Linked DNA regions of Homo sapiens: regions 1 and 2 are each linked to region 3. Evidence: fine-mapped expression QTL. A gene starts in region 3. Each other region holds a variant in brackets. All regions are shown on one strand. Distances are between the middles of the regions.

What was found. PIP is the estimated chance that this variant, and not a neighbour inherited with it, causes the effect.
Region 1: its variant is fine-mapped to the expression of BORCS8 in whole blood (TOPMed, PIP above 0.99).
Region 2: its variant is fine-mapped to the expression of BORCS8 in whole blood (TOPMed, PIP 0.96).

Annotation. Positions count from the first base shown.
Region 1 is chr19:19,161,240-19,163,994 of GRCh38, forward strand. The region is part of intron 5 of BORCS8-MEF2B (BORCS8-MEF2B readthrough); the gene reads right to left. The region is part of intron 1 of MEF2B (myocyte enhancer factor 2B); the gene reads right to left. Among named protein-coding and RNA genes, the nearest start is that of MEF2B, 7.6 kb to the right of the region's middle. RefSeq lists an enhancer at 1-134. The variant C/T (reference allele first, on the strand shown) is at 1,491.
Region 2 is chr19:19,151,125-19,153,879 of GRCh38, forward strand. All of the region lies in intron 5 of BORCS8-MEF2B (BORCS8-MEF2B readthrough), which reads right to left. All of the region lies in intron 1 of MEF2B (myocyte enhancer factor 2B), which reads right to left. Among named protein-coding and RNA genes, the nearest start is that of TMEM161A, 14 kb to the left of the region's middle. RefSeq lists an enhancer at 583-642. The variant G/C (reference allele first, on the strand shown) is at 1,522.
Region 3 is chr19:19,191,033-19,193,768 of GRCh38, forward strand. It overlaps BORCS8 (BLOC-1 related complex subunit 8), which reads right to left and starts at 1,120. Exons shown (of 6, transcript NM_001145784.2): 1 at 1,049-1,120. The coding sequence starts at 1,085. It overlaps BORCS8-MEF2B (BORCS8-MEF2B readthrough), which reads right to left and starts at 1,120. Exons shown (of 12, transcript NR_027308.2): 1 at 1,049-1,120. RFXANK (regulatory factor X associated ankyrin containing protein) reads left to right here and starts at 1,226. Exons shown (of 10, transcript NM_003721.4): 1 at 1,226-1,522; 2 at 1,928-2,068. RefSeq lists an enhancer at 2,003-2,092.

The DNA.
Region 1 (2,755 bases), 30 kb before region 3:
CGGGCCCCAAAAAGTCCCTGGTGGAGTGCTGAGGGACAGGGGCGGATGGGGTTGGGGGTCACTCCATCCTTGTATGGGCATAATGGGAGGTAGAAATATTCCCCACACACGGAGACCCCCAAACAGAGCCGCAGAAAATCCACAGATGCCCGAAACAACAGATCCCCCAAATACACAAGTATTCCTCCTGCGAAAGTCCCCAAAATACATGCAGTTCACGATACGCCAAACCCCCCAACCCACACAGCTCTCCAAACACACACATCCCCAAAACACATCCTATTCCCTCTGCATAGACAGACCCCAAAAACACTCAGACATACCCAGATGCCCCAACACATGCCAATCCCCCAAATGCACAGACACATACAGATCTCCCTAAACACATGGCCGTCCCGCAAATACACACAGACCCCTTTCCCCTGAACAATGTGGAGACCCCCGCCAGACGCATGCAGACTCTTCCAAACATATGCAGACTCCCCCCAATCCATGCTGGTCCCCCATTACATAGGTAGGGCCCCCCCATCCCTGCAGTGATACCACCCACACTCTAGCTTTCTTCTTTTTTGTTTTTTTTTTTTGTGAGACAGAGTCTCACTTTGTCACCCAGGCTGGAGTGCAGTGGCGTGTTCTCTGCTCCCTGCAACCCCTGCCTCCTGGGTTCAAGCGATTCTCCTGCCTCAGCCTCCCCAGTAGCTGGGATTACAGCCATGCGCTACCACACCCAGCTAATGTTTGTATTTTTAGTACAGACAGGGTTTCACCATGTTGGCCAGGCTGGTCTTGAACTCCTGGCCTCATGTGATCTGCCTACTTCGGCCTCCCAAAGTGCTGGGATTACAGGCCACCATACCTGGCTGGGTTTCCTCTTTTTAATTATTATTATTTTTTTTTGAGATGGGGTCTCGCTCTGTTGCCCAAGCTGGAGTGCAGTGGTGCCATCATAGCTCACTGCAGCCTCCAATTCCTGGGCTTAAGCATTCCTCCCACCTCAGATTTCCCAGCAGCTGGGGCTACAAGCGCACACCTAATTTTTAACCAGACTATGCCAGGCTAATTTTTTTTATTTTTGTAGAGAAGGGGCTTCATTTTATCACACTGGCTGGTCTTGAACTTCCGGCCTCAAGTTATCCTCCTGCCTCAGCCTCCCTAAGTGCTGGGATTACGGGTGTGAGCCACCACACAGGCCTGGCTGCCTTCCCAAGGCCGGGTGCTCTCCACCCACCAGGGGTGAAATGCAGGCTGGGGGCATCTGAGGCTAGATTTGAATGGGTAGTGTTTGAATCCAGGATTCTTAGAATGTTCCAGCTGGAGAAGGCCCCATGGGGGTCCTTTTTTCCATAGGTCCCTCTGGCACCCATGGGGAAAGTGAGGCCCAGTGGGGAGCCCTCAGACCCTCCTTCCCACCTCTCCCTGGGCCTGCTCCTGGGAGGGACAGCTCCTGTTCGAGGGGCAGGAGTCCACGGTGAGTGGGACCCTCTGTGGGA[C/T]GCCCCCTCTACTTCACTCCAGGATCCCATTTTGGCCATGCACAGAGAGGCCAGGGCCGGGGCTGTAGGCCAGTCAGTCCAGGATTCAAATCCTAAACCCGCCACTTGCCCACTGCGTGATACTTTCTGAGCCTCGGTTTCCTGTGTTTGCAGGGGTCCCCACAAACTCCCCATGTACCCACCCACCTCTCCCCTCACTTGAAAAGGTGTCATCTACCAGCAGACTCCCAGCCCACCTTCTGCCCCTTTGGGGGCATCTGCAACACCAGCCCCAAACTGATTCCCTACTTGCCCATCACTCTCCCTTTGCCCGGACTGTGTCCAACCCCGGGACACCCTTCTAGGTTTGCCCAAGTCCAGGAGTGTCTCCATGTCCTCTAAAGACCTGCAGAAAACGCTCTTTCTGGAGGCATCAATCTTTTTTAATATTTATTTTAATTTTTTCAGGCAGGGTCTCATTCTGTCACCCGGGCTGGAGTGCAGTGGTGTGGTCTCGACTCACTGCAGCCTGGCCCTCCCGGACTCAAGCGATCATCCCACCTCAGCCTCTGGAGTAGCTGGGAGTAGCACGGCGCCACACCTAGCTAATTTTTGTATTTTTTTAGAGCCGGGGTCTCCCTGTGTTGCCCAGGCTGGTCTCAAACTCCTGGTCTCAAGTGATCCTGCTGCCTCGGTCTTCCATAGTGCTGGGATTACAGGTGTAAGCCACCACGCCCGGCCAAATTCAACTCTTTCTGCAGCACCTCAGCCCTATCAGACTTTTTGGTGTGTGTTTCTTTATTGCTTTCTTTGATGAGCATCTCGCCCTGCCGGCTTCCCAGCGCCTAGTACATAGAAGGCCCTCAATCACCCTTCCTTGAATCAACGACCAAACAACTGCTTCACAGACAGAAGAAACACTGCCAACTTGCTCAGTTTTCTGTTTTTCTTTTTTCTTTTTTTGAGATGGGGCCTTGGTCTGTCACCTAGACTGGAGTGTAATGGCACAATCTGGGCCTACTGCAACCTCCGCCTCCCAGGTTCAAGCCAATCTCTTGCCTCAGCCTCCCGAGTAGCTAGGGCTGCAGGCGCCTGCCCCTCCACATGGCTAATTTTTTGATTTTTTGACATCTTATTTTTTGTAGAGACAGGGTCTCACTAGGTTGCCCAAGCTGGTCTTGAACTCTTGAGCTCAAGCAATCTGCCTGCCTTGGCCTCCCAAAGTTCTGGGATTATAGAGGTGAGCCACCACACCCAGCCCTACTTGTTTTTTCTTGAGATGGGTT
Region 2 (2,755 bases), 40 kb before region 3:
CGTCTATAGTCCCAGGTACTCCGGTGGCTGAAGTAGGATGATCACTTGAGCTGGGGAGGTTGAGGCTGCAGTGAACTATGATCTTGCCACTGCACTCCAGCGTGGGCAACAGAGACCCAGTCTTTAAAGGAAAAAGAAAACAGAATAATAGAAACGCCTCCTGCTCTAGCAGGAGGATGCAGGCACACTCTGGAAAGGCCTCCAGCTCAGAGTCCTTGGGCCAGGGTGTGGGCCTGGCATCCACTTGGTGACTTGGAAGAAATCCTGTACCCCACTCAAGGAGATGTGAGATCGCCCTGGTAGGGGTCCCAGAAGGAGGAGACTGCTGGACTATGCTGGGGTCCAGGCCTTCCCCAGAGACCCCCACTCGAGGTTCCTGGGAACAATCGAATCATGTGGCCTGTCCTGCAGCCGCCGCCCTCTGTACAGACGTCCCCTGACACCACAGGGGACGTCCCCGCTCCGCCAACTGTGTGACCACACTCCACCTCCCAGCCTCTACCATGTCACAGGTGACTGAGGCTTCAGGCAAGGGGCCTCTCCAGGGTCACGCGGACCTACGCTCAGGCCTGGCCTTCCCTCTGACCCTCAGGGCAGCCCTCAGCACAGAAGACCCTTTCCCCAGGCCTCAGTTTGCTCTTCTGTGAATGGGCTGGTAGGAAATGCTGAGCACCCACCACCAGGCTTGGCAACAAGTTATCAAGAAATCCAGATCAGGCCGGTCACGGTGGCTCACGCCTGTAATCCCAGCACTTTGGGAGGCCGAGGCAGGCAGATCACTTGAGATCAGGAGTTCGAGACCAGCCTGGCCAACATGCTAAAACCCCATCTCTATTTTTTTTTTTTTTTTTTTGAGACGAGTTTTCACTCTTGTTGCCCAGGCTGGAGGGCAATGGCGCGATCTCGGCTCACTAAAACCTCCGCCTCCCAGGTTCAAGTGATTCTCCTGCCTCAGCCTCCCAAGTAGCTGAGATTACAGGTGCCCTCCACTATGCCCAGCTAATTTTTGTATTTTTAGTAGAGACGAGGTTTCACCATGTTGGTCAGGCTGGTCTCAAACTCCCGACCTCATGATCCACCCATCTTGGCCTCCCAAAGTGTTGGGATTACCACCGCATCCTACCCACCCCATCTCTATTAAAAATGCAAAAATTAACCAGCTGTCGTGGCGCACACCTGTAGTCCCAGCCACTTGGGAGGCTGAGGCAGGTGTGTCACTGCACTCCAGCCTGGGTGATAGAGCAAGACTCTGTCTCAAAAAAAAAAAAGAAAAAGAAAAAGAAAAAGAAAAAGAAATCTGGCTTGGCGTGGTAGCTCATGCCTGTAATCCCAGTATTTTGGGAGGCTGAGGTGGGTGGATCACGAGGTCAGGCGTTCGAGACCAGCCTGGCCAACATGGCAAAACCCTGTCTCTACTAAAAATACAAAAATTAGCCAGGCATAGTGGTGGGCACCTGTAGACCCAGCTACTCAGGATGCTGAGGCAGGAGAATCCCTTGAACCTGGGAGGCGGAGGTTGCA[G/C]TGAGCCGAGATCCCGAGATTTTGACAGGCTGGGCAACAGAGCGAGACTCCGTCTCAAAAACAGAAAGAAAGAAATCCAGATTGTTCTCTGGGAGTGTTCTCAGGGCTTCCCAGACCCCTGCCCAAGCGGTCTGGGCAAGGCCCTCCATTATCCCAGGGCCCAGAAGTGTTAGATACCTCGGCTGGCAGATATGGCATGCTGTGTGACCCCAGGCACACCCTCTGCCCTCTCTGGGCTGGGTCTCTGAGCCCCCACAACTATGTAGAGCCCAAGCTGTCAGTCCCAGACCCTCAGCTCCGGCTTGACTTGCTAAATTTAACCTCCAGGGCTAATTTTAATCCCCAGCCGGAATCGGGCCTGTTCCCACGGCTGGGATATGTTGCCCCCACCCTGATGGGTCCCTGGGGGGTGGACGGGGGCCTTGGTCCGGAGGTCCCAGGGCCAAGATGACTCCGGAAATGCCCCTGATGCCCAGGGTCCCACGAGAGCAGCAGCAGGGCTGGGGCTTAGGCCTGAGTCTCTTAAGCCTGGAAGACCTGACTCAAGCCCCTTCTCACTCTGTCTGTCCCCATTTTAGACACAGACACCATGGCTAGGGCAGAGGTCATGTGATGGGGGAGAACTGGGAAGTCTCTCTCTGCACTGAGACCCTGAGAGCTGAGATAGAAAGTGAGTTCCAGGCAGAAGGAAGAGCAGGTGCCAGGGCCCTGAGGAGGGACAAGAAACAGCGGGAGGGTGGGGATGAGGCCACAGAGGTTGGGCCATTCTAGGACTCCTTCTTTTGGGTTTCCTTCTTTTAATTTAATTTATTATTATTATCATTATTTTGAGACAGAGTCTCACTCTGTCGCCCAGGCTGGAGTACAGTGGCATGATCTTGGCTCACTGCAACCTCTGCCTCCCGGGTTCAAGTGATTCTCCCGTTTCAGCCTCCCAAGTAGCTGCGATTACGGGCATGCACCACCACACCTCGCTAATTTTTGTATTTTTAGTAGAGACGGGGTTTCACCATGTTGGCCAGGCTGGTCTTGAACTCCTGGCCTCAAGTGATCTGCCCGCCTTGGCCTCCTAAAGTGCTGAGATTACAGGCGTGAGCCACCACGCCTGGCCATATTTATTTTTTTGAGACAGTCTTGCTCTGTTGCCCAGGCTGGAGTGCGGTGGTGAGATCTCAGCTCATTGCAGCCTTGACCTCCCAGGCTCCAGTAATCCTCCCACCTCAGCCTCCTGAAT
Region 3 (2,736 bases):
ATGTGAGTAATCTAGGGTGATTTAAAGTATAGGGGATTAGCTGGGTGCAGTGGTTCACACCTGTAATCCCAGCACTTTGGGAGGCCAAGGTGGGTGGATCACTCGAGGTCAGGAGTTCGAGACTAGCCTGAGCAACAAGGTGAAACCCCGTCTCTACTAAAAATACAAAAAAATTAGCTGGGCATGGGGGTGTGTGCCTGTAATCCTAGCTACTCAGGGGGCTGAGGTTGCAGTGAGCTGAGATCCCCCCACGGCACTCCAGCCTGGGTGACAGAGCGAGACTCCGTCAAAAAAAAAAAAAATTAAAGAATTAGCCTGATGTGGTGGTGTGCACTTGTAGTCCCAGCTACTGGAGAAGCTGAGGCAAGAGGATCGCCCGCGCCAGAGAGATCGAGGCTACAGTGAGCCATGATCGCGCCACCGCACCCCAGCCTGGGCGACAGTGTGATACCTTGTCTCAAAAAAAAAAAAAAAAAAGGAAACAAGACGCACAGCGATTACTACGCCCCGGGGATTCTTCCAATGCATTACAAATATCAGGTTGTTGAGTTTTTTTTTTTTAGACAGGGTCTCACTTGTCACCCAGGCTGGGGGTGCAGTGGCACGACCGTAGCCCACTGCAGTGCAGCCTTGACCTCCCGGGCTCAAGCAATCCTCCCACCTTAGCCGCCCAAGTAGCTGGGACCACAGGCGTGCGCCACCACGCCCGGCTAATTTTTGTATTTTTTTAGAGACGAGATCTCACTATGTCACCTAGGCTGGTCTCGGGCTCAAGCGATCCTCCCGCCTAGGCCTCCCAAAGTGCTGGGATTACAAAGCCACCACTCCCAGCCTCAGCTACTGAATTCTTGAAACAATCCTGGGGGGACCGGTAATTAAAGCAGACACGGAGCCTTTCTACAGGTTTCAAAACTAGTCAGCGGCAGAGCTGGGATTGGACGGCAGTTCAATCACTGCTCCTCGCACGGTCCCTCCGCGCCCGGCCTTTGTCAGGCCGCCCCTCCACAAGTTACCGGCCCCCTCTGTCCCGCCCGCAGGCCCGCACCACCTTTCTTCCCCTTGAGCTGCATCTCCGGCTCCTCCATAGCGACCGCGGCCGAGCGAACCGGGAAACGGCACCGGAAGCCCGGAGGTTGGGACGCCCGCCTAAGCCTTCCCTGCTGAAACCGGACGCCGCACGGCTCCTGTTCCGGTGTCAGAGGGCCCGCCCTCCCCGCTCCTCAGTCTTTGCGGACAAGAAAGGGGCTGTGTGAGACGCAGGGAAGGAGGCACACCCGGGGGTGGCGCAGTGAGGAGGGGGCGCGACGGCCAGGAGGCTGGTGGAGCGACACCCAGGCAGGAGAGGGGGAAGAACTCTCTCCCTTTCTGAACCCCCTTTTCCTTGAGAGACGAGTTGGGGGAGTCCTCCACGCATTACCCACTCGGGCCGCAAAAACTCCCTTCTTTAGCCCTCTGCCCCCGCCCTTGCTTATAAGCCTTTGAGACCGCAGAAGGGACCTTGTTGTGGAACGGGACGGCCAAGGTACGCTGCCCCTTTAAGTTCCAGACGCCCCGCGTACTTCCCCTACTTCTTCTTCTTGAGATAGCCCCGCCCATCTACCCGAAGCCGGAGCCAATTGGCTCCCTCTGGAAAAATCTGTGGGCAGGGTAAAGGTGAGCGGGCGCAGGCGTAGTGAAATTCTCAGAGCCCTTTAGGCCCCGCCCATTCCCTCCGAGTCGGTGAGGAGGGGAAAAGAAGGCGCAGGCGCAACTGCCCTCCCAGGACCCCAGCGGAACCCACGCCCTCCCCTAAGTCTTAAAGGGCCAGAGGCAGCACTTACTGCCCGGGCCCTTCCTCACTTTTGGGGGGCGGGGGTGCGCAAGCGCAGTGGGGGAGCTCTGGGGTGGGGGTAGCGGTCGAGTATCAAGTTGCTTTCTGTCCCGGCAGAGGAAGCCAGATCGCTGAGGGTCCGGTCTCCAGTTTGCCTCCTGCTATATCCATTGGAAGAGAAAAGTTTGTGACTTGGGCCCCCAAGTTTTGAGAGAACTGGGCTTTCGGCGCGGGGGGACAGAGGAGGCTCGTGGGGAGGTGAGTGGACCTCCTGGATCGATTTAGGAGGCTCGGGTGGGACTGGGACCAATCGCACCTTTGTTGAGCCGTCACTCATTATGGGGAGCCCCTCCCAACAACCATAGCGAATATTTATTGAGCTCCACGCTTAGCAGATCCCCCGATAAGCTATGTACAGACATAATTCGTTGTAGGTCTCATTTCCACATTTTGTCGTGGAGGAAACTGAGGCTCAAAGGTTAAGTCACGTGCCCAAGTTCTCACGGCCTATAAATTGAGGGATTCGAACCCAGACAGCTGACCCCAGAGCCCCGGCTTTTTTTTCCTTTCTTTTTTTTTTTTTTTTTTTTTTTTGAGACAGAGTCTTGCTCTGTCGCCCCAGCTACAGTGCAGTGGTGCGATCTCTGCTCACCGCAACCTCCACCTCCCGAGTTCAAGCAATTCTGCCTCAGCCTCCCGAGTAGCTGGGATCACAGGCGCCCGCCACCGCGCTTGGCTAATTTTTGTATTTTTAGTACAGATGGGGTTTCACCATGGTGGCCAGCCTGGTCTCGAACTCCTGACCTCATGATCCACCCTCCTCGGCCTCCCAAAGTGCTGGGATTACAGCCGTGAGCCACTGTGCCCTGCCAGAGCCCAGGCTCTTAAACATTGCACATTGTAGGTGCTTTGGTGGTGGGGAATGG